Homo sapiens: one gene and its partners. The protein of the gene in region 1 purifies or fractionates together with the protein of each later gene. This does not show direct contact. Each region holds a gene or a part of one and is shown in the gene's direction. Other genes may lie near its edges.

What was found.
Region 2: the proteins of WHR1 (region 1) and ASB3 purify together in Homo sapiens (affinity purification with mass spectrometry, with the first as the bait; one large-scale study listed by BioGRID). This does not show direct contact.
Region 3: the proteins of WHR1 (region 1) and ACACB purify together in Homo sapiens (affinity purification with mass spectrometry; one large-scale study listed by BioGRID and IntAct). This does not show direct contact.
Region 4: the proteins of WHR1 (region 1) and PCCB purify together in Homo sapiens (affinity purification with mass spectrometry; one large-scale study listed by BioGRID and IntAct). This does not show direct contact.

What each region holds. Positions count from the first base shown.
Region 1 is NC_000006.12:31,974,369-31,982,004, forward strand, and holds the end of WHR1 (winged helix repair factor 1), read left to right. Parts: intron 1-4,534; coding exon 4,535-4,630; coding exon of another isoform or gene 4,631-4,642; intron 4,643-5,045; coding exon 5,046-5,185; intron 5,186-6,082; coding exon 6,083-6,180; intron 6,181-6,285; coding exon 6,286-6,433; intron 6,434-6,635; coding exon 6,636-6,681; 3' UTR 6,682-7,078; downstream 7,079-7,636. UniProt on the Homo sapiens protein: DNA-binding protein which is required for efficient transcription-coupled nucleotide excision repair (TC-NER). Acts as part of a TC-NER complex which assembles and interacts with RNA polymerase II (RNAPII) when it stalls at DNA lesions.
Region 2 is NC_000002.12:53,698,297-53,706,140, reverse strand, and holds part of ASB3 (ankyrin repeat and SOCS box protein 3), read left to right. Parts: intron 1-5,612; coding exon 5,613-5,870; intron 5,871-7,844. Other genes in the region: GPR75-ASB3 protein, read left to right, coding at 5,613-5,870. UniProt on the Homo sapiens protein: Probable substrate-recognition component of a SCF-like ECS (Elongin-Cullin-SOCS-box protein) E3 ubiquitin-protein ligase complex which mediates the ubiquitination and subsequent proteasomal degradation of target proteins. Recognizes TNFRSF1B.
Region 3 is NC_000012.12:109,244,189-109,252,032, forward strand, and holds part of ACACB (acetyl-CoA carboxylase 2), read left to right. Parts: intron 1-1,437; coding exon 1,438-1,560; intron 1,561-1,990; coding exon 1,991-2,260; intron 2,261-3,417; coding exon 3,418-3,515; intron 3,516-5,795; coding exon 5,796-5,916; intron 5,917-7,844. UniProt on the Homo sapiens protein: Mitochondrial enzyme that catalyzes the carboxylation of acetyl-CoA to malonyl-CoA and plays a central role in fatty acid metabolism.
Region 4 is NC_000003.12:136,261,301-136,269,144, forward strand, and holds part of PCCB (propionyl-CoA carboxylase beta chain, mitochondrial isoform 1 precursor), read left to right. Parts: intron 1-651; coding exon 652-765; intron 766-7,844. UniProt on the Homo sapiens protein: This is one of the 2 subunits of the biotin-dependent propionyl-CoA carboxylase (PCC), a mitochondrial enzyme involved in the catabolism of odd chain fatty acids, branched-chain amino acids isoleucine, threonine, methionine, and valine and other metabolites.

The sequences.
Region 1 (7,636 bases):
AACCTGTGATTCAAGACAGTGGTCTAAGAAGAGGGAAGAGGTAAAGTAAAATATAAACTGAAATCTAGGCTGAGTGTGGTGGCTCATGCCTGTACTCCCACCACTTTGGGAGACTGAGGCAGGAGTATAGCTTGAAACCAAAAGTTTGAGACCAGCCTGGGCAACAAAGTGAGACCCCATCTTTACTAAATAACTGAGATCCCATCTCTACTAAATAAATAAATTAAAACACAAAAATTCTTAGCTGGGCATGGTGGTGTGCACCTATTGTTCTAGCTGTTTGGGAAGTTGAGGCAGAAGGAGTGCTTGAGCCCAGGAATTTGAGGCTGCAGTGAGCTATGATTGCACGACTGCACTCCAGGCTGGGTAACAGAGGGAGACCCTGTCTCTAAAAAAATGAAAACAACAACAAAAAAACCCAGAACTGAAATCTGTCCATTGGATTTAGCAGGTAGAAGGTTAATAGTGATCTTTCAAGAAAAGAGGAAAGAAAAGGAAGGCAGTCTAGCACTCACTTGAGGTGAGCTAGTCTCCCTGACTAGGTCTCCCGTGAGGAAGCATGCCAGATGGAACCACTCCTTAAGGAGTATTTGTTGATTTTAATGTATTGGTGTTAGCTTTTGTTTTTAAAAACCTTTAAAAGTTGCAGAATGAAAATATAAACATATATAATTTAAATGATGTTTATAAAGCAGATACCTATCTAGCCACTCCCTAGGTCAAACTATAGAATATGACCAGTATCCCACATATATCCCTCTCTGATCAAAATGTCTCTGATCAGAATGTCCCTGGGAGGTGACTGCTGTGGTCATTGTTGCCTTAGTTTTCCCTTTTTTTTTTTTTTTTTTGAGGTGGAGTGTCGCTCTGTTGCCCAGGCTGGAGTGCAGTGGTGTGATCTCAACTCACTGCAACCTCTGCCTCCTGGGTTCAAGCAATTCTCCTGCCTCACTGTCCTGATTAGCTGAGACTACAGGCACGCGCCACCATGCCCAGCTAATTTTGGTATTTTTAGTAGAGATGGGGGTTTCATCATGTTGGCCATAATGGTCTTGATCTCCTGACCTCGTGATCTGCCCTCCTCGGCCTCCCAAAGTGCTGGGATTACAGGCATGATCCACCGCACCCGGCCTAATTTTGTATTTTTATAGGGATGGGGTTTCACCCTGTTGGCCAGGCTGGTCTCAAACTCCTGACTCAGATGATCTGCCTGCCTCGGCCTCCCAAAGTGCTGTTTTTTTTTTTTTTAATTGTCTTTTTGATAATTCCACTATTTTTTTTTTTTTTTGAAAAGTCTCCCATGTCTACCTCTTTCCACACAGACACGGCAACCATCCGATTTCTCAATCTTTTCCCCACCTTTTCCCGCTTTCTAGTCCACAAAACCACCATTGTCATCGTGGCCCGTTCTCAATGAGCTGTTGGGCACACCTCCCAGATGGGGTGGTGGCCGGGCAGAGGGGCTCCTCACTTCCCAGCAGGGGCGGCCGGGCAGAGGCGCCCCTCACCTCCCGGACAGGGCGGCTGGCCGGGCGGGGGGCTGACCCCCCCACCTCCCTCCCGGACGGGGCGGCTGGCCGGGCAGAGGGGCTCCTCACTTCCCAGTAGGGGCGGCCGGGCAGAGGCGCCCCTCACCTCCCGGACGAGGCGGCTGGCCGGGCGGGGGGGGCTGACCCCACCACCTCCCTCCCAGACGGGGCGGCTGGCCGGGTGGGGGGCTGACCCCCCACCTCCCTCCCGGACGGGGCGGCTGGCTGCGTGGGGGGCTGACCCCCCCACCTCCCTCCCGGACAGGGCGGCTGGCCGGGCAGAGGGGCTCCTCACTTCCCAGTAGGGGTGGCTGGGCAGGGGCGCCCCTCACCTCCCGGACGGGGTGGCTGGCCGGGCAGGGGGCTGACCCCCCCACCTCCCTCCTGGAGGGGGCGGCTGCCGGGCGGAGATGCTCCTCACTTCTCAGACGGGGCGGCTGCCGGGCGGAGGGTCTCCTCCCTTCTCAGACGGGGAGGCTGGGCAGAGACCCTCCTCACCTCCCAGACGGGGTCGCGGCCGGGCAGAGGCGCTCCTCACATCCCAGACGGGGCGGCGGGGCAAAGGCGCTCCCCACATCTCAGACGATGAGCGGCCGGGCAGAGACGCTCCTCACTTCCTAGATGGGATGGCGGCCGGGCAGAGACACTCCTCACTTTCCAGACTGGGCAGCCAGGCAGAGGGGCTCCTCACATCCCAGACGATGGGCGGCCAGGCAGAGACGCCCCTCACTTCCCAGACGGGGTGGCGGCCGGGCAGAGGCTGCACTCTGGGCACTTTGGGAGGCCAAGGCAGGCGGCTGGGAGGTGGAGGTTGTAGCAAGCCGAGATCCCGCCACTGCACTCCAGCCTGGGCACCATTGAGCACTGAGTGAACCAGACACCGTCTGCAATCGCGGCACCTCCGGAGGCCGAGGCTGGCGGATCACTCGCGGTTAGGAGCTGGAGACCAGCCCGGCCAACACAGCGAAACCCCGTCTCCACTAACAAAATACGAAAACCAGTCAGGCGTGGCGGCGCGCGCCTGCAATCGCAGGCACTCGGCAGGCTGAGGCAGGAGAGTCAGGCAGGGAGGTTGCAGTGAGCTGAGATGGCAGCAGTACAGTCCAGCTTCGGCTCGGCATCAGAGGGAGACCGTGGAAAGGATAATTCCACTATTACTTGTCTTTTGGGGTTTGTTTTTATTCTCTCTTTGAGTTTTGTTTCCTTATGCGCCCAGTTACTTTTGAAAATGTTCTGGGCAGATTTGCCTAGATTAATAAATGCCCTCCATGTTCCAATTACTTTTTTTTTTTTGAGACAGTGTCTTACCCTGTCACCAAGCTGGAGTGCAGTGGTATGATCTTGGCTCACTGCAACCTCTGCCTCCTGAGTTCAAGTGATTCTCCTGCCTCAGCCTCCCAAGTAGCTGGCATTACAGGCACCTGACACCACGCCCAGCTAATTTTTTTTTTTTTTTTTTTTTTGAGACGGAGTCTCGCTCTGTCACCCAGGCTGGAGTTCAGTGGCATGATCTTGGCTTACTGCAAGCTCTGCCTCCTGGGTTCACCCATTCTCCCGCCTCAGCCTCCCGAGTAGCTGGGACTACAGGTGCCCGCCACTATGCCTGGCTAATTGTTTTTTTTTTTGTATTTTTAGTAGAGATGGGGTTTCACCGTGTTAGCCAGGATGGTCTTGATCTCCGGACCTCGTGATCCACCCGTCTCAGCCTGCCAAAGTGCTGGGATTACAGGCATGAGCCACCGCATCTGGCCTATTTTTGTATTTTTAATGGAGACCGGGTTTCATCATGTTGGCCAGGCTGGTCTTGAACTTGAACTTCTGACCTCAAGTGATCCACCCTTAGCGTCCCAAAGTGCTGGGATTACAGGCATGAGCCACCGTGCCCGGCCCCAGTTATTTTTATTTTTATTTTTTGAGTTAGAGTCTCACTCTGTCACCCAGGCTGGAGCGCAGTGGCATGATCTCGGCTCACAGCAACTTTCTGGGTTCAAGCAGTTCTCCTGTGTCAGCCTCCTGAGTAGCTGGGACTACAGGCACACATCACCACGCCCGGCTAATTTTTGTAGTTTTAGTAGAGACGGGGTTTTACCATATTGGTCAGGCTGATATTGAACTCCTGACCTCAGGTGATCCACCCACGTCAGCCTCCCAAAGTGCCGGGATTACAGGCTTGAGCCATCTCGCCCGGCCTACTTAGATGTTATATTAGTGGTAATTCCTGTTATCCTGTGAGCTCTTTAGTGTCTAAACAATTTTTTTTAAGAGATGGGGTCTCACTGTGTTGCCCAGTTGCAATCATATCTTACTGCAGCCTCAAACTCCTGGGTCAAGTGATCCTCTTGCCTTAGTCTCCCAAGTAGCTAGGACCATAGGTGTCTGCCCCCACGCCTGGCTGTTTTTACATTTTTTGTAGAGATGTGGCGGGTGGGGGGGTCTCACTGTGTTGCCCAGACTGGTCTCGAACTCCTGTCCTCAATTGATCCTGCTACCTCAGCCTCCCAAAATGCTGAATTACAGGCATGAGCCACTGTACCTGGTCTTAAACAATTTTAAAATAACATTTTTATCCAGGATTTTAGTTAATTTTCAACAGGTGGATTAGTTCTTGCTGTATTCTCGTAAACAGAAGTCCTGGTTTATTTTTATTTGTTTTAAACATTGAATCCCATACTCCTCCCCACCTTACCCTACCCAGAATTTAGACTGTTAATGTTTTGAAGCCACAGCCTGCATCTTAATCACTATTTTATCTTAGTGCCTGGTCTTAGAAATTATATTGACTCTTTGATAGACCATATATAAGGCAGGTGGATGAGAATGTGGGTAGCTAGTTGGAAAAGGCTGCTTGGTCATTTGCTTGATTATTTTCTCACACAGTTTTTCCTTTACTAAGAGAAAATGCCCCCATATTGGCAAACAAAATCTCCCTGCCTGAGAGCGCCCAGAGTATAGCAGAGCATCTTACCCTGATACGCCTCTTTTCACTCTCTTCTCTGTGGAGACAGAAGGAGCTTCAAGAGCAGGGGGAGATCAGAATCGTCCAGCTGGGCTTCGACTTGGATGCCCATGGAATTATCTTCACTGAGGACTACAGGACCAGAGTATGTGACTGTGTGCGTCAGGGGTGCTGGGGGGAGGGCACAGGTTGGGGGAGACAGGGAACTTGGGAAACAGAAATAAAAACAAAAGAAAGAATTTCCCTGCCCCCACATCCCATGGAGAGGGCACAGGGCCCTGGTAAATAGTAATATGAGGGAGAGAGACAGGAGGGAAAGAGGGAGGAGTGAGAGGGTAAAGAGGGGGGGAGAGGAGGGGGAGGAGGAGGAAGGAAGGAGGGGGAGGAGGAGGGGGGGAGGAAGAGGGGGAGGAGGATGAAGAGGAGGAGGAAGAAGAAGGGTATGAGAGGTGGAAGGATCTGAGCAAGAGGTAAGACAGGAAGAGAAATGCTGTCCTGGGGGTGGAGGTTGGTAGAGAGTGAGGGTGGGGATGGACCATGTCTCTCATCTCTGCTTGTAGGTCCTCAAGGCCTGTGATGGCCGACCGTATGCTGGGGCAGTGCAGAAATTTCTAGCTTCAGTACTTCCAGCCTGTGGGGACCTTAGTTTCCAGCAGGACCAAATGACACAGACCTTTGGCTTCAGGGACTCAGAAATCACGTGAGACTTGTGGAACCAACCAAAGTCAGGCATCTGGTGCTTCCCTGCCTCCCTCCAGTTCCATCCAGCCTGTCCTCCTGTTTTTTTGGTGAACCTGCCAGAAAAGCTGCCAAAAAGCTGACTCTTCTTGTTAATAAAATGACCCAAGTTTGTATTCCTCCCCACAAGAGAGGAGGCCTATCTTACCTGGGCCTTAGAAAGAGCCCTGAAATAGAATTCAGTTCTTGGTGGCTTATCAAAAGCACACAGGGGCCTGGCAGGAAGTGTAAAAGCTTGATGTTAATCATACTGGGACTAAGAGGATAGAGAATGGTAGGAGCTGGGATACCCCTAAACATTCACATTAAAACAAAAAAAACCCAAAGCTAAAAAACAACTGGGCAGGAGCTAAATAAAAATCTAATTTTGAGAGGCTGTATCTGGCTCAGGCCTCCTACTTTGTAACCCATGGAATATGTGAAAGCATTTGAAAAACTATAGCACTGATCTCACATGGGCAGACACACTCTCAGAGAGATGTGGTGGGAGCCATGGCGCAGTCTGCCTAGGCAGTGGCAGGAGCGCAGAAGACTCTGATTCCTCTCCTCGGTCCTAAGACCGAATGTGTGTCAGGACATGTGGTCAGGGAAGAGAAGCTATTTAACTGAACCAGTAATAGTAGCAGGAAAAGAAAAAGTGGAGGGAGGGCAGTCCAGGTAGGGGGCCTGGAACAAGCAACTGCACCAACAGAGGCAGTTGGTGCGAGCACAGAACCACCCCAGGCTGGGATTTTGTTATCCAGTCTCTCTTGCATGGTTGCCCGTGTTTCTGGAGACTTGTGTAAACATTAATGGATGAGGAGGAGAGATGGTTCTCAGAGCCCAGCCCTCATCTCTGCTGGCTTCCCACTGCCCTCAGGCATCTGGTGAATGCTGGAGTCCTCACCGTCCGAGATGCTGGGAGCTGGTGGCTAGCTGTGCCTGGAGCTGGGAGATTCATCAAGTACTTTGTTAAAGGTATCCCATCTGCAGCTCAAGCCTGCAGCCCCTCACCTTTTGGTGGCTCCTCAGGCCTCTAGGCCTTATTCACCTTTCCCCTTTCCTGTGCCACTTCTCCTCTAGGGCGCCAGGCTGTCCTTAGCATGGTCCGGAAGGCAAAGTACCGGGAACTGCTCCTATCAGAGCTCCTGGGCCGGCGGGCGCCTGTCGTGGTGCGGCTTGGCCTCACCTACCATGTGCACGACCTCATTGGGGCCCAGCTAGTGGACTGGTGAGTCTTTCCCTGGCCTCTGGCAGATTATGGAGCAATGACCCAAAGTGGGATTTCCTCCCAGCTCATGCTTAGTTTCCTAGTGAAGGCCAGTGGCTCTCATTCTTCTCTGGAACCCGGGAGCACCCCTTCCCAAGTTCTAAGTTCTCCTCACAGCTTGAGCCTAGGCGTCTGGCTCCAGCCTTGTCTTTCTCCTGCACAGCATCTCTACCACTTCAGGAACCCTCCTCCGCCTGCCAGAGACATGAAGATTCTGCTCATCATTGCTCAGCTCCTCAGAGTGGGCCGGGAGGGGACTAGAAGAGCTGCATGATGGTGGCTGAGACAGGGTCACCTTGGGAAGGCTTGGGAGCCAGGATGAGTGTCGGGCTCTCGTGTGTGCAAAAGGTCAGATGTGACTGCTGCTGTTTGCCTGGTTTCTGACCCAGTGGTGGGGTTTGAGCAATGCTTCTCTGCCCTTCCATGGAAAGTGGAACCAGAAATGGTGCCAAGGCTGTGGCTGTTCCCTTTCGTGTAAAATGGTGCTGTTATTACTCTGTCTTGAAATAGGAAGGTGGGATTTCTGGGGAGGCTGGTGAAGGAGGGCAGGGTTCTTTTCTCTACGTGTCATGTTAAAATTGCCAAATAAAGTACCTCTGCCTGTGATATTTTCTGGATGTCCTTTATTTACTGTGACGTGTGTTTGGGTGCCTTGTTTAGGGGTAGAGGTGAAGTCTGAGCTTTGCCTCATTCAGAGAGGAAAGGGGTCAGGGGTTCACTCTGACGTTCAGGCCATTCTCCCTGTGGAGTGGTGAGGGTGTACCTAATCTCCTAAACCACGGAATTTCTGTTAGGGCCTAAAAAAGCAAAAGCCTAGTATAGTTCAATTTGTGTTGGAATGAAAGTAAGAGACAAGTGTCTTAGAAGCCTGTCATTGTTTTGTGAGGGCCTTTAAATATCCTGTACTCGTGGGCCATGTTGGGCCCTTGTACGCCCAGGTATACATGAGCTTGTGTGCACCTATACCCTGATACAGATATACCTGGTAGGGGGAGGTGCTCAGGCACTGGAATGAGAGGAGTTAACGGGGAAGGACAGGGTTATTTCTGGGCCAAGATTCAGAGTTTCCCATGGACACCCAGGTGTCCGGGGTGCCCCCACAACTCTGGGCCTGAGGCCAGTTGCACTTCTTGGCTGTCACGTGGTTTCCCAGCTTAGCTGGGC
Region 2 (7,844 bases), on another chromosome or scaffold:
ATTCCATTATCTTTAAAATAGGGATAGTAATAACACCTAAGCTTGCTTTAGAAAATTATTTTGAGGATCAAATGAGCTAACAGTTGTGAAAATGCTTTGTAATTTGTAATTATTGTCTTAAAAAAACCCTAGTTTTTTGGGTGAGAGAGTCTTTGGTCTCAATGTCAATATATGTACAGATCACCTTGCCCGGATGTGTGCCTTGTACTTGCATTCTAGGATATTGCCTGTTTGGAACATCTACTCATATTTTCATACTGTCCCTCTCTGGGCAACTAGCTTTTGTAATTTACAAATATTTACAAATGTTTAACAAATTTAAAGGTTAAAAACAAATTTAAAGAAATTATCCACACAGAAGTACAAAAGAGAAAAAAGATGGAAGAAAAAAACAAGAGCGTCAGGGAACGAAGGGACAGTATCAACAGGTCTAACATTCATGTCATTAAAATCCAGAAGGAGAGGAGATTGGGCACAGAAAAAATATGTAAATTAATAATTGCCAAAAACTTCCTATTATTGGATAAAGATATAAATTTACAGATTTAAGAGGCCTGTTAAACCCAAACAGGATAAACTCACAGAAAGGCATGGTCAGAAAAATCAAAATGCTATAAAACAAATGTAAGGGAGACCTAGTCTCTCCCCGGATCAAAGAAGAAAAAGAAAAGTAAAGGTGAAGCAGTATGGTGTACAGTAGTCCTTGGTCACAGACATGAGTTAACAAACTTAGTTTTGTTTTTTTTGTGTGTTTTGTTTTTGCATCTCTTAGAAATTTTGCTCTTTGAAGTGGCCATGTGAGCATAATTACAATTTGTTTTTGTGCTATCGAAAGGGCATATGAGCGATTTTCTTTCATGTGAGACTTGTAATTGAACCAATATATTCTTAGGTAGATTTTCAGTAAGTAGTCATTGGAAAATGCTATATTTTTAGCCTTTAAAAATAAAGTCAAAACCTCAAAATATCTGTTTTAGGAGGGTGTATTCTCTTAGTCTTTTTATTTTTCATTCTAGAATTGGGCAACACCTTATTCTATAAAATAGAACATAGCAAACTTTAAGGTCAAAGAGACGTAGAATTTGATTGTGGGAATTTTGTCAAAAATATCAAGGTTCAAAAAACTTTACCAAAGTAGGATCACAGGTCAATGTGAAATAATAGTCACTTATCTCATCTAGAGTGATAATTAAATGGCTTCAAAAGGCAAATGCAGAAAGTTATATAGTTGTAGAAAAACCTGAGTTCTTTATTAGAGAGTTTTCATAAGTGATCAGATAGAATAAAGACAACATGAAGCACAGGGAATCATCTTGATAAAATGCAGAATCTTTGTTTTTTTAGACCAGTTACCTAATAGGTAAAGGAAAACCTTTCATTATTTCCAAGAAAACTAAATACCACATTTTTATTATCTAATGTCTGGCTGGTTGCTTATACATTTACTGTATATGTAATATGAGACTTATTCATTTTGAGTTTCTGTATGAAGCTTTTCCAATTAAGCAAGAAAATGATCATTTTCCCAGTAGGTTTTGCTTTGGTATGTCAAGAGGGTCATATAACCAGTGTCTGAGGGAAAAAAATTGAAGCTGAAAAATATGTTTTTGGTTATTTCTTTTGATAAGTAAGCATCTTAAAATTTGGATTGCCTACAATCACATGACTAAAATTAATTAAATTAATTACAGTCACCAATTATAAAGCAAGGACAATTGAATATAATCTTAATTTTAAAATAGCTATCATATGTTATTTTTTCCCTTTTTTTTTTTTTTTTTGAGACAGTCTCTCGCTCTGTGGCCCAGGCTGGAGTGCAGTGGCGTGATCTTGACTCACTGCAACCTCTGCCTTCTGGGTTGTGGCGTTTCTCATGCCTCAGCCTCCTGAGTAGCTGGGATTACAGGCATATGCCACCACGCCTGGCTAATTTTTGTATTTTTAGTAGAGATGGGTTTTCCCATGTTGGTCAGGCTGGTCTCAAACTCCTGGCCTCAAGTGATCTGTCCGCCTTGGCTTTTTGGTGTGGGATTACAGGTGTGAGCCACCACGCCTAGCCCTTCTTACTTTTCTTAATGAGTGATACACGAATTTCCTATATCACTTTTACCAGTTATAAGAATTCAAATTTGGTCACAATACTGGTACCAGGTAACTTAGAAGATTCAATTTTCCAAAATTAATTATTTGATATTCTAATTTTTAGGGATTTGGTAATAGATAGTAAGTTTAATGGTATAAGTTTAAAAATTTTATTTTTATAGCAACAATGTGTTATGATAGTGTTAATTTGGTATGATTGTTGTAATTAACACCTATCCGACTTCAGGTGTTAATGGCTAAAAGACTTCCCTTTTCTCATTTGTATATTTTCTAGTATTTCTCTGAAATCTATTAATTTACTATTTGTGGACTTTCTTGCACTATTGACCTGTTGTATTCTAATAAACTTTTATCTACTTTTATAAATAGTACAATTAACACCAAAAGGTGATGAAAATGATAAATAACAGCTTTGGATTTTCTTTATTCTTGTTGTTTTGAGATAGAATTTCACTCTGTTGCCCAGGCTGGAGTGCAGTAGTGCAATCATTGCTCACCGCAGCCTCAAACTTATGAGGTCAAGTGATCCTCCTGCCTTGGCCTCCTAAGGTGCCCCAGGTTTTAAGTTTTCTCTTCCTTATTATTTTTTCAGCTAATTCAACTTTTAAGCTCAGTATCAGTGTTCTGAAACATTTTTGGTAGGTATTCTTTGTGAGAATGACACTTAGCTCCTTTCACCACTCCCAGGGATGATGGAAAGGTGTCTCCTCCACTACTGTATAGATCCTGCAACAAAAGCAGTTTTTGTCCTTTGGAGCTAAAAAGTTAGCAGCTATATTGATATGAAGCCAGTCTTTCAAGAGTAATTGAGTAATCCATCTCGAATGAGGAAATATAAGAAAAAGATTCCTCCAAATGGAATGGGAAAGGAAGAGGGAAGTTGAGAAGTTTTAGGACTGTTTGAGCAAATATGAATGCCTTTTATATATGGCCACAGAAGTAGATTGTGGCTTAGCTCACCTGGTTTTGTCTGTTTTTCTAGTTGATACTAATCATTGTTATTACATTAGTTTCATAGAATTAATTGTGTCCATTCTAGCCACCATATCGTGTGGGCACATCTGACAAAACTGAATGTCTTCATCTTGTTTTCAGCTAATGGTCGAAAGCCATTCAGTAAAACTCACTATTTGGCCTGTTATAATTCACCTAATAAGTTGGTTGGATATTTTGTTTGCTAATTGAACATAAAATGCTGAAGATATTTGCCCATTTCTATTTGTTTAAAGTAAATTTTGTTTTCATGTTGAATTTTCTCTTACTGTGCTTCTTTTATGTGTGAGCACTGTTTTTCTGCATAGTTTTGAACTTCAAGGAGCGGAGTGGTAGAAAATGTGCAAACCCCCAAAATAAGGTCTAGACATTGGATTTTAATTTTTAAATCTCTCCTCTCAGTATCTGATGTTGTTCACTTCTTATATAATGTACAGTCCCTCTATGTCACAATTAATTCTTGATATTTATGTTAAACAAGATAGACTTTTGTTTAAATCTCGGGTACTTGAAGAGTTTTCTCAATTTGATATTAGGGCTACAGAGAGAATTTGTTGAAGTGTTAAGAGAAATACATACTAATTTATATTTTAACCAGAGGTTATCCATGCTCAAGGATTTATTGTGTGCTTAGTGACATGTAATAATCAAGGTCATATAGAGCCCTGAAGTTGAAGTTGCTTGTGTTTCTGTAGTGTGCACATGTATTTGAGACCTTCTTTAATAACCTTCCCAGAAGCTCAGGGCATGCTGACAAAACTCTATGCTTCTCCAGTTTATTTTGTGTTTATTTTATTCTTCAAACAAATGGTAGTTTTTTTGGGAAATGGTCTATATTGTAGCACTGTGCAGTTTTATAAGCCTTTTGGGATTTACTCTTGCCCCTTCTAATACAAGGCAATGTGAATAATTGGAAGAGGTTTAGAGCTGATTTTCTAAAGTGTGTTTTGGTAGAATACTAATTCTGTAGATTGTTAATAGATATTATATGGGATTAAAGGGGTTGTATTGTTAAATAAGTTTGGGAAGTACAGGATTAAATAATATTGAATATGTTTCTTTTGTAGAGGGCTTTTGAGAATTTTTCTTATTGTAGTGTGCTTTGTGAATTCCTAAAAGAGGAATGGATCTACAAAGATTTGAAAAGTCCAGAAACATAGGATAGAACTTATATTTAAGTATATATACCATTGTTCTTGTGTTTACAGAATTTTGGGCATTTTATACTTTTGTTTGCTTTTTTCAGATTAATGATTGGACCCATTGTTAATTTTAAAGGTACCTCTTCTGAAAAGTATCTGAAAGTTGAATAAAAACATTGAGCATATATTTGGAAATGTAACTAACACATTGTTTAAAAATACATTCATCCTATCTTTCTCAGGCTCACTGTATACTGTATAAGGAGGTTTCTCAGTTTTTTTCACTGGAGAGTATTTTTCATATGGATCATTTTCAGGAACTAAAGTTCTGTGTAACCTACTTTGGAAAACATAGATCTGGCTCTAAAATATTCTTCAATTTGGCTATATCATGAAGTGTTCAGTTTTCATAATAGAGAAGAGATATTGCAGAAATTTGCTATGTCATATTCACTGTTAGATTTTGGTTTGATATCATTATCCCAGTTCTGCCAATTACTAGCTCTGTGACTCAGCTTCAGTTTTTGCATCTACAATGGAGATAATAATAGAAGTTAATTAATTTTAAGATGTAGTATTGTAAATTAAATTTGTGTTAATTAAAAAAGTTTTTAAATTTTTTTTAATACCATTATAAATGTAAGGCCAGTCACGGTGGCATACCTTTTGGGAGACCAAAGCGGGAGGATTCATTGAGGCCAGGAGTTTGAGACCAGCCTGGGCAACATAGTGAGACTCTGTCTCTACAAAAAAATTTAAAAATTAGCCAGGCATGGTGGCATGTAGCTGTAGTCCCACCTACTCAGGAGGCTGAAGTGGGCGGATCACTGGAGCCCAGGAGTTCAGTTACAGTGAGCCTTGATTGTGCCACTGCACGTCAGCCTGGGCCACAGAGCAAGACCCTGTATCTAGAAAAATAAATAAGTTTAAAGTGGGAGGGAAATTGGCTAAGGTTATTGCTAAGGAAAATGATATCTTAGAGATTCCTAGAATCATTTAGTTTTAAGGATTGATCACGTTGTTTATTGATTTTGTTAAGCAAAGTATTTTGTAGTAAAGATACTCATTTGTACAAAATATCACAATTTGAGTTTTCTGTCAATGATAATTTTTTTTAAAATGACATTTAAGATGAATGTTTTAAATTATAATAATACCTGTTCACAGTTGAAAATTAAAAACCATGCAGGAGGGTGTAAAAAGCAAAAGCCCCACCACATTCTCTAATCTCAATCCACTAGATGTGTAGAAACCATCCACTATTTAATCTGCCATACTTATTCCCCAGCTGTAACTACTATTAACTGTTTGTAAGAAGTATCTTATGTCAAAGTCTAACTTCTTCTTTTTTTGTTTTTATTTTTTATGGTGGAGCTGTGAGTTCTTTGGAATTGTGAACATTCTTTTGAAATATGGAGCCCAGATAAATGAACTTCATTTGGCATACTGCCTGAAGTACGAGAAGTTTTCGATATTTCGCTACTTTTTGAGGAAAGGTTGCTCATTGGGACCATGGAACCATATATATGAATTTGTAAATCATGCAATTAAAGCACAAGCAAAATATAAGGAGTGGTTGCCACATCTTCTGGTTGCTGGATTTGACCCACTGATTCTACTGTGCAATTCTTGGTAAGAAATTCTACCATAGTCGGGCTTACCCTTTTTGAGTGAATATACTACCTTTAATTTCCTTCAGTTGAGATCCCAGTGTTTGGAGAAGGGTATCTGTGTTTTGACTGTGATGGCTGAATTGGGGTGAAGGAGTTGGTGGCTGCTAATAATGAGATTGAATTTAAGCACAGAGTCCTGGGAAAAGATAAGAGGTGACTGGAAGGAGGTATGAGGGGATAGATGCCAGTGAGCTCTTCTAAGAGGGATATTTCTTCGACTTCTGGGCATTCCTCATGCTTCTCTTAAAATGCCTGTAACAGAAGAAAGAATGCTTGGAGCTGCTTTGGAGATTTCTGTTGTCTATCCCTCAGCCAACCAGACTGAATAGTCCTGCCGTACAGCATCCTGTGTATTTGAAACTTGTCACCCTTAATAAATACTGATTTCTGAAGTATCTGAGACTATAGTTTGTTTACTTCAGGTAGTTCCTCAGAAGGGCAACCCTCAGTGAGAGATTATACAAACGCCGAGTCAGAATTTTTTGGGGGGCAAGAAGAAGACTCTTTCTATTAACCTCCAGCCTTTGCAAAAATTGTTAGTGTCCTAACACAAGTAATTGTAGTAGCGAGAGGACTCTTGGCCTAATAATTCAAGTCAAATGAGAAAATAAAATGGAAGTCTTCAGGAAAATAGAGGACTTGTTATTTTATAGAATTTCAATAAAATATCTAGAAGTCTTCACTTTCGTGTTTCAATTCTTACCCCGTGTGATGTCTGTCCCTAAGGCACTAATTGTCTTCTTAGAAACACTCCTTGTGTTTTTCTACCAAAGCTATTAACTCTGATTCGATATGACTTGCCCAGTACTTTCAGCCTTCATGCTCCTTTCTGGTTTCTAATTTATTTATTTCTGTAACCAAAACATAGAAACTGTCTGATACCTACTGCTGTGGTTTGAATGTGTCTCAAATTTCAGGTGTTGGAAACAGTCCTCAAATTCATTTGTTGATGATATTTGGAGGTGAGATATTTGGGAGGTAATTAGGATTAGATAAGATCATCAAGATGGTGCCCCAGTGATGGGACTGGTGGGTGGCTTTATAAGAAGAGAGACTGGAGCTGATATGCTTTTGTTCTCTCACCGAGTGATGACCTCTGCCATGTTATGACACAGCAAGAAGGCCCTCATCAGATGGGCCCCTTGACTTTGGACTTCCCAGTCTCCAGAACTGTAAGAAATAAATGTACTTTCTTTATAAATTACCCAGTCTCAGGTATTGAGTTATAGCAACAGAGAATGGACTAAGACAGAAATTTGGTACTGAGAAGTGGGGCTGTTGCTCATAACGATTACCTAAGAATATAGAAGTAGCTTTCGAACTAGGTAATGGGTAGAGGCTGGTAAAGTTTGGAAGAACAGTCTAGAAAAAGCCTATATTTCCGTAAATGGAGTGTTAAGGGTGATTCTGGTGAGTGCTCATAAGATGAGAAGACTAGGAAAGTCTCAACCTTCTTAGAGATTATTTAAGTGGTTGTGACCAAAATGTTGATAGAAGTATGGATAGCAAAGGCCATTATGACAAGGTCTCAGATGACAATTAGCAATACCCTGTTGGAAAGTGGAGTAAAGGCCATCCTTGTTATTAATTAGTGAAGAACTGGGATGAACTGTGTCTATGCCTAAGGACTTTATGGAAGGCTGAATTTAAGAGTGATGAACTAGGCTATCTGGTGGGAGAAATAACTAAGTAGCAAAGCATTCAGGCTGCTGCATGGCTACTTGTGGCCACTTATAGAGAGATGTGAGGGCAAAGGAATGACTTAGGACATAATATAATTAGAAGGGAAGAAGAGTAGAAAATTTTGGAAAATTCTCAGCCTGGCTGTGTGGAAAAGAATGAAAGAGAATTTTCAGGAGAGGAACCCAACGTTGTGACTAGCAACCCTTTGCTGAGCAGATTTGTACAAATAGAAGATATCATCAAGACAATT
Region 3 (7,844 bases), on another chromosome or scaffold:
GGTCAAGGACCTTCCAGTGTAGGCAGGAAGCATCTGTTCCTACCTCTGCCTATGCCTCATGCATAGAGGATATGAAAGAGTAGGAAAAGCTGCTCTTTAGAGTAACTCGGGCCTCAGCTCGAATGCTGGATCTGTCCCCTTGCTTCCTGCTGTCCCTAGCCAAGTTCCTTCACCTCTCTGGGCCTCAGTTTCCTCTTCTGTAAAATAAGAATAATAACAGTACCTACCAAAAGTTGTTGGAAAAGTGTATGTATTCAGTGGGCGCTTAATAAGTGGAAACTTATGATTAAGAATGTCATTGTCTGTATCCTTTTGCCTTTGACCTCAAGAGCTATAAGGGAAGAAACATGACTGAACCAGAAGCAAATCCATCGTCTCTTTTTTAGATAAATCCATTGTCTCTTTTTTACAGGCATGAGCCACCATGCCTGGCTAATTTTTTTATTTATAGTGGAGACAGGGTTTCACTATGTTGGCCAGGCTGGTCTCAAACTCCCGGCCTCAGGTGATCTGCCTGCCTCAGCCTCCCGAAGTGTTTGGATTACAGGCATGAGCCACCACACCCAGCTGTCTGTCTGTCTGTCTGCCTCTATATCTATATCTATGTCTATATCTATCTATTTATCTATCTATCTATCGAGAGAATGGAAAACTGAACAGCAGACCAGAGCTAAATTTATCAATATGGATAAATCTCTCAAACAAAGAGGAGTAGAAAAAGTAATTTGCTGCCGGGCGTGGTGGCTCACGCCTGTAATCCCAGCACTTTGGGAGGCTATGGTGGGTGGATCACCTGAGGTCAGGAATTTGAGACTAGCCTGACCAACATGGAGAAACCCTGTCTCTACTAAAAATACAAAATTAGCCAGGTGTGGTGGTGCCTCAACCCGGGAGGTTGAGGCAGGAGAATCACTGAATCCGGGAGGCAGAGGTTGCGGTGAGCTGAGATTGCGCCATTGCACTCCAGCCTGGGCAACAAGAGAAAAAAAAAATAGAAAAAGTAATTTGCGGAAGGATGTGTACAGTGTGGTACTCTTTATTTAAAGTTTGCAGTGCAAAACGATATTGTATGTTTCCAATGTATGCATACAGGATAAAGGAAAATGAAAAAAAAAGCATGCATAGGACTGGGTAGGCACTGAATTCAAGGGAATGGTCACCTGTGGGTTGGAGTTGGGAGGAAGAATGAGCTGGGGCTTCAATCGCATCTTTCTTCTTTCTTTCAAAAACTTTAAACAACTATGGAAAAATCAAGATTTGACAGAGCCACTGGATGGGTGCTCATATTTAAATATGCTTTAAATATTTCATGATTCAAAAAGAGAGAGTGAACTACAGAATTCACCCTGGAATCATGACAGATCATCTCTGTCTGGGAAAGATAGTTCTTCCCTACTGATGACTTCAAGTTTTTTCTCTTTCCTCTTCTCTCCCCAGGCTCTCTTTAAACTGTGGGGCTCCCCAGACAAGTATCCCAAAGACATCCTGACATACACTGAATTAGTGTTGGACTCTCAGGGCCAGCTGGTGGAGATGAACCGACTTCCTGGTGGAAATGAGGTAATAGCTCAGCGGAGCCTAACCCCTGGCTGGAGTCACCCCCTTAAAAATATTTTTGGGCCAGGTGCAGTAGCTCACACCTGTAATCCCAGTGCTTTGGGAGGCCAAGGTGGGTGGATCACTTGAGGTCAGAAGTTCAAGACCAGCCTGGGCTACATGGTGAGAACCTGTCTCTACATAAAATTTTAAAATTAGCTGTGTGTGGTGGTGTGCTCCTATAGTCCCAGCTACTCGAGAGACTGAGGCAGGAGTGATTGCTTAAGCCCAGAAAGTTGAGGCTGCAATGAGCTGTGATTGCACCACTGCACTCTGGCCTGCGCAACAGAGCAAGACCCTGTATCTAAAAAAAATAATAATAACTAAAATAAAATAAAAAGTTTTCCCCCAAAGAAACAAACTCATTTTCCTTGTGCATTCATCCCCTTGCCAGGTGGGCATGGTGGCCTTCAAAATGAGGTTTAAGACCCAGGAGTACCCGGAAGGACGGGATGTGATCGTCATCGGCAATGACATCACCTTTCGCATTGGATCCTTTGGCCCTGGAGAGGACCTTCTGTACCTGCGGGCATCCGAGATGGCCCGGGCAGAGGGCATTCCCAAAATTTACGTGGCAGCCAACAGTGGCGCCCGTATTGGCATGGCAGAGGAGATCAAACACATGTTCCACGTGGCTTGGGTGGACCCAGAAGACCCCCACAAAGTACGTCGTGAAACTGGCGGGGCAGGGTGATTCTGCTCAGCTACTACTGTATTTTCAGTGGGAGTGCTAGCACCTGCAAGAGGTGAAAAAAATCTCACTTATGTATAAAGCACAGATGTACATGTAGTGTATAAACAGGCATACAGTGTATCAGTGATACTAACATTTCACTGTGGCGGGGGGGATGGTGATGAGAAAAAAAAGATCTAAAAAGGCTCCTTAACGGGGATAATGAAAAAAGTCTATAAACCCTGAGCTGATATACACTGAGCGCTCCTGAATGCAGTGTGCACTGAGAATGCAGAGGTGATTGTGTCAACTCCCTGGCCTCATAGCGTTCTTAGAATTATGGCTCACACCTGTCATCCCAGCAACTCAGGAGGCTTGGGTGGGAGGATAGCTTGAAGCCAGGAATTCATGACCAAGCTAGGTAACCTAGGCAGCATAGCCAGACTTCGTCTCTACTAATGAAAAAACTAGGTGAGCATGATGGTGCCTGCCTGTAGTCAGCCTCAGCTACTTGGGAAGTTGAAGTGGGAGGATCACTTGGAGCCCAGGAGTTCAAGGCTGCAGTGAGCCATGATCATCATACCACTGCACTCCAGACTGGGCAACTGAGTGAGACCCCCCATCTCAAAAAAAAAGAAAAATCTTTGGGGAGTTGTATAGATACCAGCTTGCCATAAAAGGCAAGATGAATGAGGGAAGCGCACGCATTCTGTGATGTGAAATGACAGGGGACAGTCATCCTTTCCATTCAGAGCATGCATTCTCGGGGGCGATATTGCCCACTACCCCCAAGAAGACAGAAAAATAATTTTTGGGGTGGCAATAAAATAGTTTTTAACATATATACATATACAGAGTATGTAAATAGTGGTTAAACAGTGTATCTTGAAAATTAAAATTTCATGTTGGGGTGCTGGCAATAAGAAATAAAAATGAGATAGTCCTTAGAGGAGAGCTTAGCTCAAAGCAGAACTTCAGTTTATGGCTGTTATTAATACGGTATTTACATGAGATGTGTTAATGTGTCATTGACATGTTACTAACATGTTATTAACATCCATCCCTACGATGTTCACATTAAGAAAAAAAAAACAGTGGCTTTCAGTGCAGGGAACTGGATTCGTAGCCTCACTAAAGTATTTTTTAAGGGATTTAAATACCTGTACCTGACTCCCCAAGACTACACCAGAATCAGCTCCCTGAACTCCGTCCACTGTAAACACATCGAGGAAGGAGGAGAGTCCAGGTAAATAACTTATCAGGTAGCTCCTTAATTTTGCTCATGGTTAATTTCAGCTGTCTTCTTTCCTCGGGGCTTGTGGCGATATTTTCCAGTGGGGTGGTGGTGTTTGTATGATGGGAACCAATGCCTGTTGGGGGCACTGATGCCTTAAACATTTGTTAAACTCTCCAAGGTGAGTCCATCCTTGTCATTCTAAAATGAGTGACTCCTTTCACAAAAAATAGCACGTCATGTAGGGAGAATGAGATTGGATTCTCGTGAATCTCCTAGGAGCCGCAGGCTCACATTTTGTGACCAAACTGATGCAGCGGTGACTTGGCAAACTGGGAAGGTATGGGTGGGGCAGAGAGAGGTCTGTTCTTCGAGAGCATTCAAAGGCTACTATCTTTTCCAGGACAAGTTATGTTTTTCTCAGTGGGATTAACTGACTCAGGATTTCCTAGACTGGGTTTTTTGCAATGTTAGTGACAAGCTGGGGGGAAATTCCATAGTCAGATGAGTTTGGGAAACACTGGGTTAAATGAGATCTCATAAACATCTTTATTGCAGACCTTCTTAGTACCTGTAGCATGCTGTATTAGTCAGCGTTCTCCAGAGGGACAGGACTAGTAGGATATATGTATATATGAAAGGGACTTTATTAAGGAGAATTGACTCACATGATCATAAGGTGAAGTCCCATGATAGGCTGTCTGCAAGCTGAGGAGCAAGGAAGCCAGTAGTGGCTCGGTCTGAGTCTAAAAGCCTCAAAAGTAGGGAAGCCAATAGTGCAGCCTTCAGTGGCCAAAGGCCTGAGGGCCCCTGGCAAACCACTGGCGTGAGTCCAAGAGTCCAAAGGCCGAAGAACCTGGAGTCTGATGTTTGAGGGCAGGAAGCTTCCAGCATGTGAGAAAGATGAAAGCCAGAAGACTCAGCAAGGCAGCTTACTCCACCTTCTTTCACCTGCTTTTTCTAGCCGCGCTGGCAGCTGGATGACTGGATGGTGCGCACCCACATTGAGGATGGGTCTTCCTCTCCCAGTCCACTGACTCAAATGTTAATCTCCTCTAGCAACACCCTCAAAGACACACCCAGAAACAGTACTTTGCATCCTAAAGTTGACACTTAATATTAACCATCACACATGCTAAAGTGCATTGTGAATCTCTAACAGAGGCTGGCGGGACAGTGTTTCTCATTATGTGGCCCTGGAATTTTTGATTGATTGATTGTGAATGGGTTTCCTCTGTGTACCCCCATCTCTCTGTAGACCGTTGGAGGAATATGGGCCGAGGGTGATATTTCACTGAGACAGCCCCTGAACAGGCAGATATCTTTGGTTGTATAAACCAAAAAGTATCTGAGACAGGTCTCAATCAATTGAGAAGTTTATTTTGCCAAGGTTAGGGACACATCCAGAAGCAAAGAACACGGAATCATAGAAACCGTCTGTGGCGTGTACCTTTCTTCAAAGATGATTTGGAGGGCTTCAGTATTTAAAGGAGAAAAGCAGGCTGGAGGGGAAAGAGGGAAGTTCTGGTAATCACATGTTGCAGGAGAAAAGGCGCAGGCAGGGGAAGTCAGTTATGTATTCTTCCTGCGCTCAGTAAGTCAGCACTTTCTATAAGATAAGGTGGACATAGAGGAACTACCTGTGGAGATATTTCAGCTTTTATCTGTATCTATCTGCTTACTAAAGAAACAAAAGGAAAGGCAGCTTGCACAACTCAGCTTCAGCTTAAATTGTTCCTTTTGGCATTGTGAATCGTGGTCCTAGTTTTTATTTTCCTTTCACAGATGGGAGCAGTGTGATGATTTATTTATTTATTTGAGACAGAATCCCGCTCTGTCACCCAGGCTGGAGTGCAGTGGTGTAATCTTGGCTCACTGCAACCTCCACTTCCCAGGTTCAAGCGATTCTTCTGCCTCAGCTTCCCAAGTAGCTGGGATTACAGGCGTGCACCACCACGCCCAGCTAACTTTTGTATTTTTAGTAGAGATGGGGTTTCGCCATATTGGCCAGGCTGGTCTCAAACTCCTGACCTCAAGTAATCTGCCCGCCTCGTCCTCCCAAACTGCTGGGATTACAGAGCAGGGTGATGATTGTTGATGCTGCACTTGCCCTTTTAGAAATCTTAGCACTCATTTTGAGGGTTCTAGATGCCAATTTCATTTTGCCTCTGGATGCTTTGTCTGCTTCCAATCTCTCACCTTGCTGCCCAGTCAGTCCCTTCTTGGGAAATGCATCCACCTTGGATTTTTTGGGGCTAGAGCCCAGCCTTTAACCTGTGCTTGCTTTTGAAGATACATGATCACGGATATCATCGGGAAGGATGATGGCTTGGGCGTGGAGAATCTGAGGGGCTCAGGCATGATTGCTGGGGAGTCCTCTCTGGCTTACGAAGAGATCGTCACCATTAGCTTGGTGAGTCTTCTTCTATTTTCTCTTACTTTTCAACTTTCCATTATAGAAACTTTAAAATTGTCACAAAATTAGAGAGAATCAATAATAAGCCCCATGTGCCCGTCACATACCTCCTACAGTTACCACATGCCAGCCCACTGATATTTCCTCAATCTCACCCCCATCCCCTGCACCTGTTTTAGAGTATTTTAAAGCCAGCCCCCATCATGTCTTTTCATCCATAAATACGTAAGGGTAGATCTTTAACAGATAATGACTCTCACCCTCTTCCCCCGGTTTTTAAAAACATAACTGAAATACTAATATTACACCCAACAGAATCAGCAATATCATTGAAACCCAGTGTGGTTTAACAGTTATCTCAAAATACCCTTTTCTAGTGGTTTGTTTGAATCAGGGTCCAATCTCATCTTATTTTCAAGGTACTGAATGTTTAGAAGAACTTTTCTCTGACTTTAACTGGCATATAAGGAGTAGTCCCCATCCCATCCCCATGGCCTTTCCAAAAATGTTTTCTGTTTCTAGTAGTAGTACTACTGTAGTAGTAGTAGTAGTACTAGTAGTAATTCTAGTACTAGCAGTGGTGGTAGTAGTGGTGGTGGTAGTAGTAGTAGTGGTAGTAGTGTTTGTGGTGGTGAATCTGTATGGGTCTAAGGCAGAGTGAGAGACCGAGGCAAGTCTCTCAGCAGGAGTGAAAGTTTATTAAAAAGTTTTAAAGCAAGAATGAAATGAAGTACACTTGGAAGAGGGCCAAACAAGGCAACCTGAGAGATCCAAGTGCCTCATCCAACCCTTTTGAGGTTTTATGCATTGGCATGATTCCAGGGTTTGTGTTTCTTCTCCCCTGATTCTTCCCTTGGGGTGGGCTGTCTGCATGCACGTGGTCTGCCAGCACTTAGGAGGGGCCGCATGAACAGTGTGTTTACTGAAGTTGTGTGCATGCTCACTTGAGGCTTTCCTCCTTTACCAGTCGAGTGTTCCTAGAAGAAGGGCACGGTACCAGATAAACTCTGCCATCTTACCTCTTAGCATGCATGCTTGAGCCCACCCACCCAGCTCCTGAGATCTTATGGGGAAGCTGCTTATCACTAGCTTCAGGTGTTTTCTATCTATCAGGAGATTGCCTTTCCCTGGAGCCAGCTGTGACCAATATTAATTTTAGAGAGACACTTTAGCAACTGCCTAACTATCACCTGATGGTTGCCTTCCTCTCCTGCCCTGCTCATGTCTGCTTAACTACCTACTCTAACAGCAGCAGCAGCAGGAATAATAGTACTCTTTAATGATAAACTGCCTTGGAAGGCCTTATTTGTACATGCAATGTTGAATCTTCAGTTTCCAAGTGGAAAATGTTGGTCATAAGCATCTTCCTTGGGCTTGTTTTCTAGATTATATGTATAGTCTTTTTATTTTGAAGTCATCTAGGACCCACCGTAAGTTATAAGATACTACAGAGAATTTCCAAGTACCCTTCACCCAGCTTCCCCTATGGTACTTACATAACCGTAGTACATTATCGAAACCAGGAAACTGACATTGGCACAATATTGTTAACTCAGTACAGACCTTATTTTGAATTTCACCAGTTTTTACATGCACTCCTAGGTGTCCTTTTGGTTGTTAAGAGGCTGCAATGGCCCATGAATGCCCAGGCTCAGAAGAGCTGCACACAAGCCTCTTAAAATCTGAAACATTCACTGTCTGCTGCTTGTCTTTACAGCAATCTTTGTTAACCATGTTATTTCCAGATAGGAATCCAAGCTCAATAAAGTGGCCTGAAGAATAGGCTTTTGCCTCTACTGTGGTTTGGCTCCAAATCGGGTTGCCATTGGTCAAAACATAACTTCCATTTGGTCCCAGCAGGTTCCTGGACTCTTCCCTGCTGTGGGGGGTGGGTCCCTCGCCACTCTCCAGAATTCAGAGGGGGT
Region 4 (7,844 bases), on another chromosome or scaffold:
CTGGATTATAGACATGGTCCTGTCATGTATTACTCCTGAGACCTTGGGCCAGTCACTTAACTTTTAAACCTTAATTTTTCTCATTTTACTCCCTCTGTTATGATGGGTAAATGAGGTAATGGAAGTGAAAGTACTTTTTAAACTGTCAAGGACTGTAGGAATATTGCTTATTATGCTGTCGGAATTACTAACCCATGAGGAAAATCTGTCACATTAGAAGTAAAAGCAGGCCCGGGCCTGCCCTCAGATTAACAGATGGGTCAACATCTGCTTTCATGAAAGTACTACTTTGCCATTCTGTCTACTGTAAGTTCTGTCAAAGCAGTACCTGGGAACAAAACTGGCTGCTGGAAGACGTTACAACGTGAGCCTGTGGTTCTAGAAATGGTTGCCATGAGTTGTTTTATCCCCTGCTAATGGGAAGTGCTTTGGCTCTTGGGTGTTTGGGGGCTTTAATCAGCCTATTAAATATCTGGTCCTTTGTCTTCCATGAAGGTACCCAATCGTGATGGGGAGTGAAACCAGTGTTACTGCCTCCTGTTTTGAAAAGTGCACTCAGAACGTTTTCCAGAAAACACTGTGGTATTTTGTGAATGTCGTTTTTTATATCAAGAACATTTGTCTCAATAAAAGATTTCTCTGCTGTCTCAGATCATGGACCAGGCCATAACGGTGGGGGCTCCAGTGATTGGGCTGAATGACTCTGGGGGAGCACGGATCCAAGAAGGAGTGGAGTCTTTGGCTGGCTATGCAGACATCTTTCTGGTGAGAAACCTGTTAATAGAGAATAAAAAAATACAGGGCTTAAGTTCTCTAAGCCATGGCCTGGCCAGAGCTTCTCCAACTCTCCTCATTGTTCTCTGCCGCATTGTGTCTGTTCTGTGGGTCCTTTCTGTGTCACTGGGGGTGGGATGAAGGGTAGATGAAAAGCAAGAGAGAGTGGGAAGAGAGGGTTTTCATTTTTTCTAACAGAGGGCCACTCACAGGGGAAATTACAGTTAAAGATCGTTCATAAGGGAAAAGCACTTGAAAATGTTTTTCTTTTTTTGAAAGCAAGGGAGAGGAAATATGAAAAGTTAAAATGAACTGATGTGCTTGAATTAGAAGTTTTAAAAAATGTAGCACCTTTTTTATTTTTTAGTTAAAACACTACAGGATTATTAAATAAAGTCCAAGCCACAGTGCAAAGAAGAATGAAATCACCCCAGATCCTACCATTCAGAAACATTTGGCGAACCTCATTACTGATATCTCTTTGCTTATTTACAGACTGAAATTATGAGAGAAAGAAATGAAAAGAAACATAAAATAATGTGTTATGTGAAGTATAAAGTATATTTGTGAGAGATACAGTAAGAGGCTGGGATGAGGGAGAGAGATACTGCAGACAGAAACTGGCAACATTTCCAGGGAGAAGAAAGGAAGGAGACAGGCAGACATTGTTTTTAATCAGGCCAGCCACTCTTATCATCCCTGCTCTGCAGGCTTACTTCTGTGGATGGCTTGGCCTAAGCAGTTTAGGCCTGGAAGTCATTCCTGTTTAGAAACAAAAGAGCGGCCCTCAGAGACGTGGTGATAAACCACCACATTTTAGAGCTTGACTGGATTTTAGAATATCATCTAGTTGAATACATCTTTATGGGTCTGGAGGAGGTTTTTTTTTTTTTTTTTTGAGACAGAGTCTGGCTCTGTCTCCCAGGTTGGAGTGCAGTGGCCCGATCTCGGCTCACTTCAACCTCTGCCTCCTGGGCTCAAGTGATTCTCCTGCCTCAGCCTCCCGAGTGGCTGGGACTATAGGCGTCTGCCACCACGCCCAGCTAATTTTTGTATTTTTAGTAGAGACGGGGTTTCACCATATTAGCCAGGTTGGTCTCGAACTCCTGACCTTGTGATCCGCCCACCTCGGCCTCCTAAAGTGCTGGGATTACAGGTGTGAGCCACCGCGCCCAGCTGGTTTTTTTTTTTTTTTTTAATATTTATTTATTTAGAGACAGTGTCTTGGTTGGCCAGGCTGGAATGCAGTGGCATGATCTCTGCTCACTGCAACCTCAGCCTCCTGGGCTCAAGCGATCATCCCACCTCAGTCTCCTGAATAGCTGGCACCACAGGCATGCACCACCACATCCGGTGAATTTTTTTTTGTATTTTTTTTATAGAGGCGGGGTTTTGCCATGCTGCGCAGGCTTATCTTGAACTTCTGGACTCAAGCGATTGGCCTGCGTTTGCCTCCCAAAGTGCTGGGATTACAGGAGTGAGTCACCACGCCTGGCTTTTAATTTTTGTTTTCAAGGGCTAGTCTTTACTTTCAGATCTTCATTGCTTAATTAATTGCTTACTAATGCTGCTTGTCATATTGATACCTCCACTCACTTATTCCTGCCTGTGTTATTTTTTGGTAACTTTTTATTTTGATAAAATTTCAAACTTCAGCCTGGGCACGGTGGCTCACACCTGCAGTCTCAGCACTTTGGGAGGCCAAGGCAGGTAGATCTCTTGACGTCAGGAGTTCAAGACCAGCCTGGCCAACATGGTGAAATCCTGTCTCTATTAAAAATACAAAAATTAGCTGGGCATGGTGGCACATGCCTGTAATCCCAACTACTCAGGAGGCTGAGGTGGGACAACTGCTTGAACCTGGGAGACAGAGGTTACAGTGAGCCAAGATTGTGCCATTGCACTCCAACCTGGGTGACAGAGCAAGACTCTGTCTCAAAAAAAAAAAAAAAATTCAAACTTCACAGAAAAATGACAAGAATAGTATGGGAACTCCTATATGTCCTTTTCCCAGATTCACCAGTTGTTTACATTTTCTCCATTTGTTCTGTTATTCTCTCTCCATATATACATATTTGCATGTTACATTTTTCTGAAATATTTGAGAATAAATTGGAGATACTATGTCTTCTTTACCTCCTAAGTTCTTCATTGGGTATTTCTAAAGAATAAAGATATTCTCTTAAATAACCAGAATACAGTAATAAAAATCAGGAAATTTAACATCGATTCATCGATGTTATTCTAATTCATTATCCTTATTCAGGACTTAAGTCCTTTATAGTGTGTGCTCTGGGCATGTGTGCACTTTCTATGTGCGCGCTCTCGCTCTTTCTGTCTCTGTCTCTCATATATATGTGTGTGTGTATATATGTATATATATATATGTTCCTCCTGGCCAGGATCCAATCCAGAATAAAGCATTGACTTTAGATGTTATCTCTTTTTAATCTTTTTTGATCTGGAGCAGTTCCTGTCTTTGTTCTCCATGATCTTGATATTTTAAAAAATAGCTTTGGCCAGGTGTGGTGGCTCACACCTATGATCCCAGCACTTTGGGAGGCCGAGGCAGGTGGATCACGAGGTCAGGAGATCAAGACCGTCCTGGCTAACACGGTGAAACCCCATCTCTACTAAAAAAAAACAAAAAATTAGCCAGGTGTGGTGGCGGGCGCCTGTAGTCCCAGCTACTTGGGAGGCTGAGGCAGGAGAACGGCATGAACCCGGGAGGCAGAGCTTGCAGTCAGCCAAGATTGCGCCACCGCGCTCTAGCCTGGGCGACAGAGCAAGACTCCGTCTCAAAAAAAAAAAAAAAAAAAAAGAGCTTAATGCTTAATAGGGCCGGGCACGGTGGCTCATGCCTGTGATCCCAGCACTTTGGGAGGCCGAGGTGGGTGGATCACTAGGTCAGGAGTTCAAGACCAGCCTGGCCAAGATGGTGAAACCCTGTCTCTACTAAAAATACAAAAATTAGGCGGGCGTGATGGCGAGCGCCTGTAATCCCAGCTACTCGGGAGGCTGAGGCAGGGAATTGCTCGAACCTGAGAGGTGGAGGTTGCAGTGAACTGAGATCATGCCACTGCACTCCAGCCTGGGTGACAGAGCGAGACTCCATCTCAAAAAAGAAAAGTAGCTTTATTGAGATATAATTTACAAACCATAAAATCCACCCATTGTGAAAATATAATTCAGTAATTTTAAATTAATTTTTAGAGTTGTACAGCCATAATCTAGTTTTCAAACCTGCCACTCACTCCAAAAATACCTTCTTGCCTGTTTGCAGTCAGTTCCCACCTAACCACAGTCAATTCCTCACCCAACTTTCTTATTTTACAAATTTTTCCATCTGACTCCTTTCACTAAGCACCATGTTTTTTGAGGTTCATTTATATTGTAATATGTATCAGTTTGTTCCTTTTTATTGGTGAATAATATCTATTGAATATTTTATGTATTTTCATCATTTACCAGTTGAAGGATATTTGGATTGTTTCTGGTTCCTGGCTATCATGAGTAAATGCTACTGTGAACATTTGTGTATTACTTTGTGTGGATATATGTTTTCATAACCCTTGGATAGATAGGTACCTAAGAGTGGGATTGTAGGTTTTATGATAAGCTTGTTTATAACTTTTTAAGAAATTGCCAGATGGTTTTCCAAAACAACTAAACCATTTACATTACCATGAGCAATGTGTTCAGGGTTGCAGGTTCTCCATATCTTTGTTGATACTTGGTATTGTCAGTCTTTTTTTGTTTTTTTTTTTTTGAGACAGAGTCTTGCCCTGTCGCCCAGGCTGGAGTGCAGTGGTGCGATCTCGGCTCACTGCAAGCTCCACCTCCTGGGTTCACGCCATTCTCCTGCCTGAGCCTCCCGAGTAGCTGGGACTACAGGCACCTGCCATCACGCCCGGCTAATTTTTTGTATTTTTAGTAGAGACTGGGTTTCACCATGTTAGCTAGGATGGTCTCGATCTCCTGACCTCGTGATCTGCCCACCTCAGCCTCCCAAAGTGCTGGGATTACAGGTGTGAGCCACCACCATGCCCAGCCTTGGTTTTTTTTTTTTTTTGAGATGGAGTCTCACTCTGTGGCCCAGGCTGGAGTGCTATGGTGCAGTCTGGGCTCACTGTAACCTCTGCCTCCCAGGTTCAAGTGATTGCCCTGCCTCTGCCTCCCGAGCAGCTGGGATTACAGGCATGTGCCACCATGGCTGGCTAATTTTGGTATTTTTAGTGGAGACAGGGTTTCACCATGTTGGCCAGGCTGGTCTTGAACTCCTGACTTCAAACGATCCATCTGCCTTGGCCTCCCAAAGTGCTGGGATTACAGGCGTGAGCCACCGCACCCAGCCAGTCTTTTTTTGAGACAGGGTCTCACTCTGTTGTTCAGGCTGGAGTACAGTGGCATGATCACAGCTCACTGCAGCCTCGACCTCCTGGGGTCAAGCGATCCTCCTGCCTCAACCTCCCAAAGTGTTGGAATTACAGGCGTGAGCCACTGTGCCTGGTCCAGTCTTTTTGACTATAGCCATTTTAGTGGTGTGTAATGGTATCTCACTGTAGTTCTAGTTTGCATTTCTCAGATGACTAATCATGTTGAGCATCTTTATGTACATATTAGTCATTTGTAAACCTTCTTTGCTGAAATGTCTATTCAGATCTTTTGTCCATCTCGTAATTGGGTTTTTGAGTTGTAAGAGTTCTTCATATATTCTGGATACAAGTCCTTTATCATATATATGATTTGTAAGTATTTTCTCCCAGTCTGTGGCTTGTCTTTTCTTTCTTAGTGGTAGCTTTATTTTTATTTTTATTTTTTATTTTTTGAGACAGCCTCACCCTGTCCTCCAGGCTGGAGTTCAGTGGTGTGATCTTAGCTCACTGCAACCTCCACTTCCTGGGTTCAAGTGATTCTCGTGCCTCAGTCACCCAAGTAGCTGGGATTACAGGTGCATGCCACCACGTCCAGCTAATTTCTTTGTATTTTTAGTAGAGATAGGGTTTCACCATGTTGCCCAGGCTGGTCTTGAACTCCTGAGCTCAGGTGATCTGCCTCCCTTGGCCTCTAAAAGTGCTGGGGTTACAGGCGTGAGCCAGCACACTCAGCCTATTTTTATTTTATTTTTTAGAGACAGGGTCTTGCTCTGTTGCCTGGGCTAGAGTGCGTTAGTGCAATCACAGCTCACTGCAGCCTTGAACTCTGGGCTCAAGCAATCCTCCTGCCTTAGCCTACGGAGTAGCTAGGACTATAGGCACACACTAGTACACCCAGCTAATTTTTGAAAAATTTCTTTTGTGTGTAGAGATGGGGTCTTACTACATTGCCCAGCCTGGTCTTGAACTCCTGGTCTCAAGCGATCTGCCTCGGCATCCCGAAGTGCAGGGATTACAAGCCACTGCCCCAAGCCTGTGGTGGCTTTTTTTTTGAGCTAGGGTCTCACTCTGTCACCCAGGCTGAAGTGTAGTGGTGTAATCATGGCTCACTGCAGCCTGGACTTCCCGGGGTCAGGCAGTCCTCCTGCCTCATCCTCCTGAGTAGCTGAGACCACAGGCACATGCTACCACATCTGGCAATTTTTTTTCATTATTTGTAGAGGTGAGGGTCCCACTATGTTGCCCAGGCTGTTCTCAAACTTCTGGACTTAAACTGTCCTCCTACCTCGGCTTCCTAGAGTGCTGGTGTTACTGGCATGAGCCGATGTGCCCAGCCTCTGGTGGCTTTTGAGGTGGAGAAGTTTTTAATTTTGAAGTCCAGTTTATCAAGTTTTCTTTTGTGGGTCATGCTTCTATTGTCATATGTAAAAACTTGTAATACAAAGTCATGAAGATTTTGTTTTCTTCATGGAGTTTTTTTTGTAGGTTTGGCTCTTTTTTTTTTTTTTTTTTTGAGATGGAGTTTCACTCTTGTCGCCCAGGATGGAGTGCAATGGCGCTATCTCAGGGATTATGGGTGCCTGCCACCAAACCTGGCTAGTGTGTGTGTGTGTGCGTGTGTGTGTGTGTGTGTGTAGATATATATATATATATATATATATATATATATATGTATATATATATATATATATCTACATACACAAGTACATATAAGAGAGCCCAGCCAGCTTTCTTATAGTAGGTCTGTGATCCATTTTGAGTTAATTTTTGTATATGGTGTGACAGAAGAGTCTAACATCACTCTTGTCTCCCACCATTAATTGACATAACTATTCTTTCCCCATTGAATTGTCTTGACACATTGATAAAAATATCAGTTGATCATAAATGTAAGGGTTTGTTTCTGAACTCTCAGTTCTTCCATTGTTCTATGTCTGTCCTTAAAATAGAACCACACTGTCTTGATTACTGTAGTTTATAGGAGTTTTGAAGTTGTGTAAAATCCTCCAACTTGGTTTTTTTTTTTTTTTTTAGATGTAGTCTCGCTTTGTAGCCCAGGCTGGAGCACAGTGGCATGATCTCAGCTCACTGCAACCTCCACCTCCTGGGTTCAAGCGATTCTCCTGCCTCAGCCTCCCGAGTAGCTGGGATTACAGTCACGTGCCAGCACACCTAGCTAATTTTTGTATTTTTAGTGGAGATAGGGTTTCACCATGTTAGTCAGGCTGGTCTTGAACACCTGATCTCAGGTGATCCACCCGCCTCGGCCTCTGAAAATGCTGGGATTACAAGCGTGAGCCACCGCACCCAGCCCGATCAGCTCTTAACTCTACAAAAATGCCTGCTGAGATTTGATAGGAACTGCATTGAGTCTGTAGATGAATTTGGTGAGAATTTACATCCTAACATATTGAGTCTTCCACTCCACGTAGATGGAATGTTTCTCTGTTTATGTAGCTCTATACTTTGTCTCAGCAATATTTTGTAATTTGCAGCATACCTGTCTTGCACTTCTTTTGTTAAACTTATACCTAAAATATTTCACTCTGGCCAGGTGCAGTGGCTCACGCCTGTAATCCTAGCACTTGGGGAGGCCAAGGCAGGGGGATCACCTGAGGTCACAAGTTCGAGACTAGCCTGGCTAACATAGTGAAACCCTGTCTCTACTAAAAATACAAAAATTAGCCAGGTGTT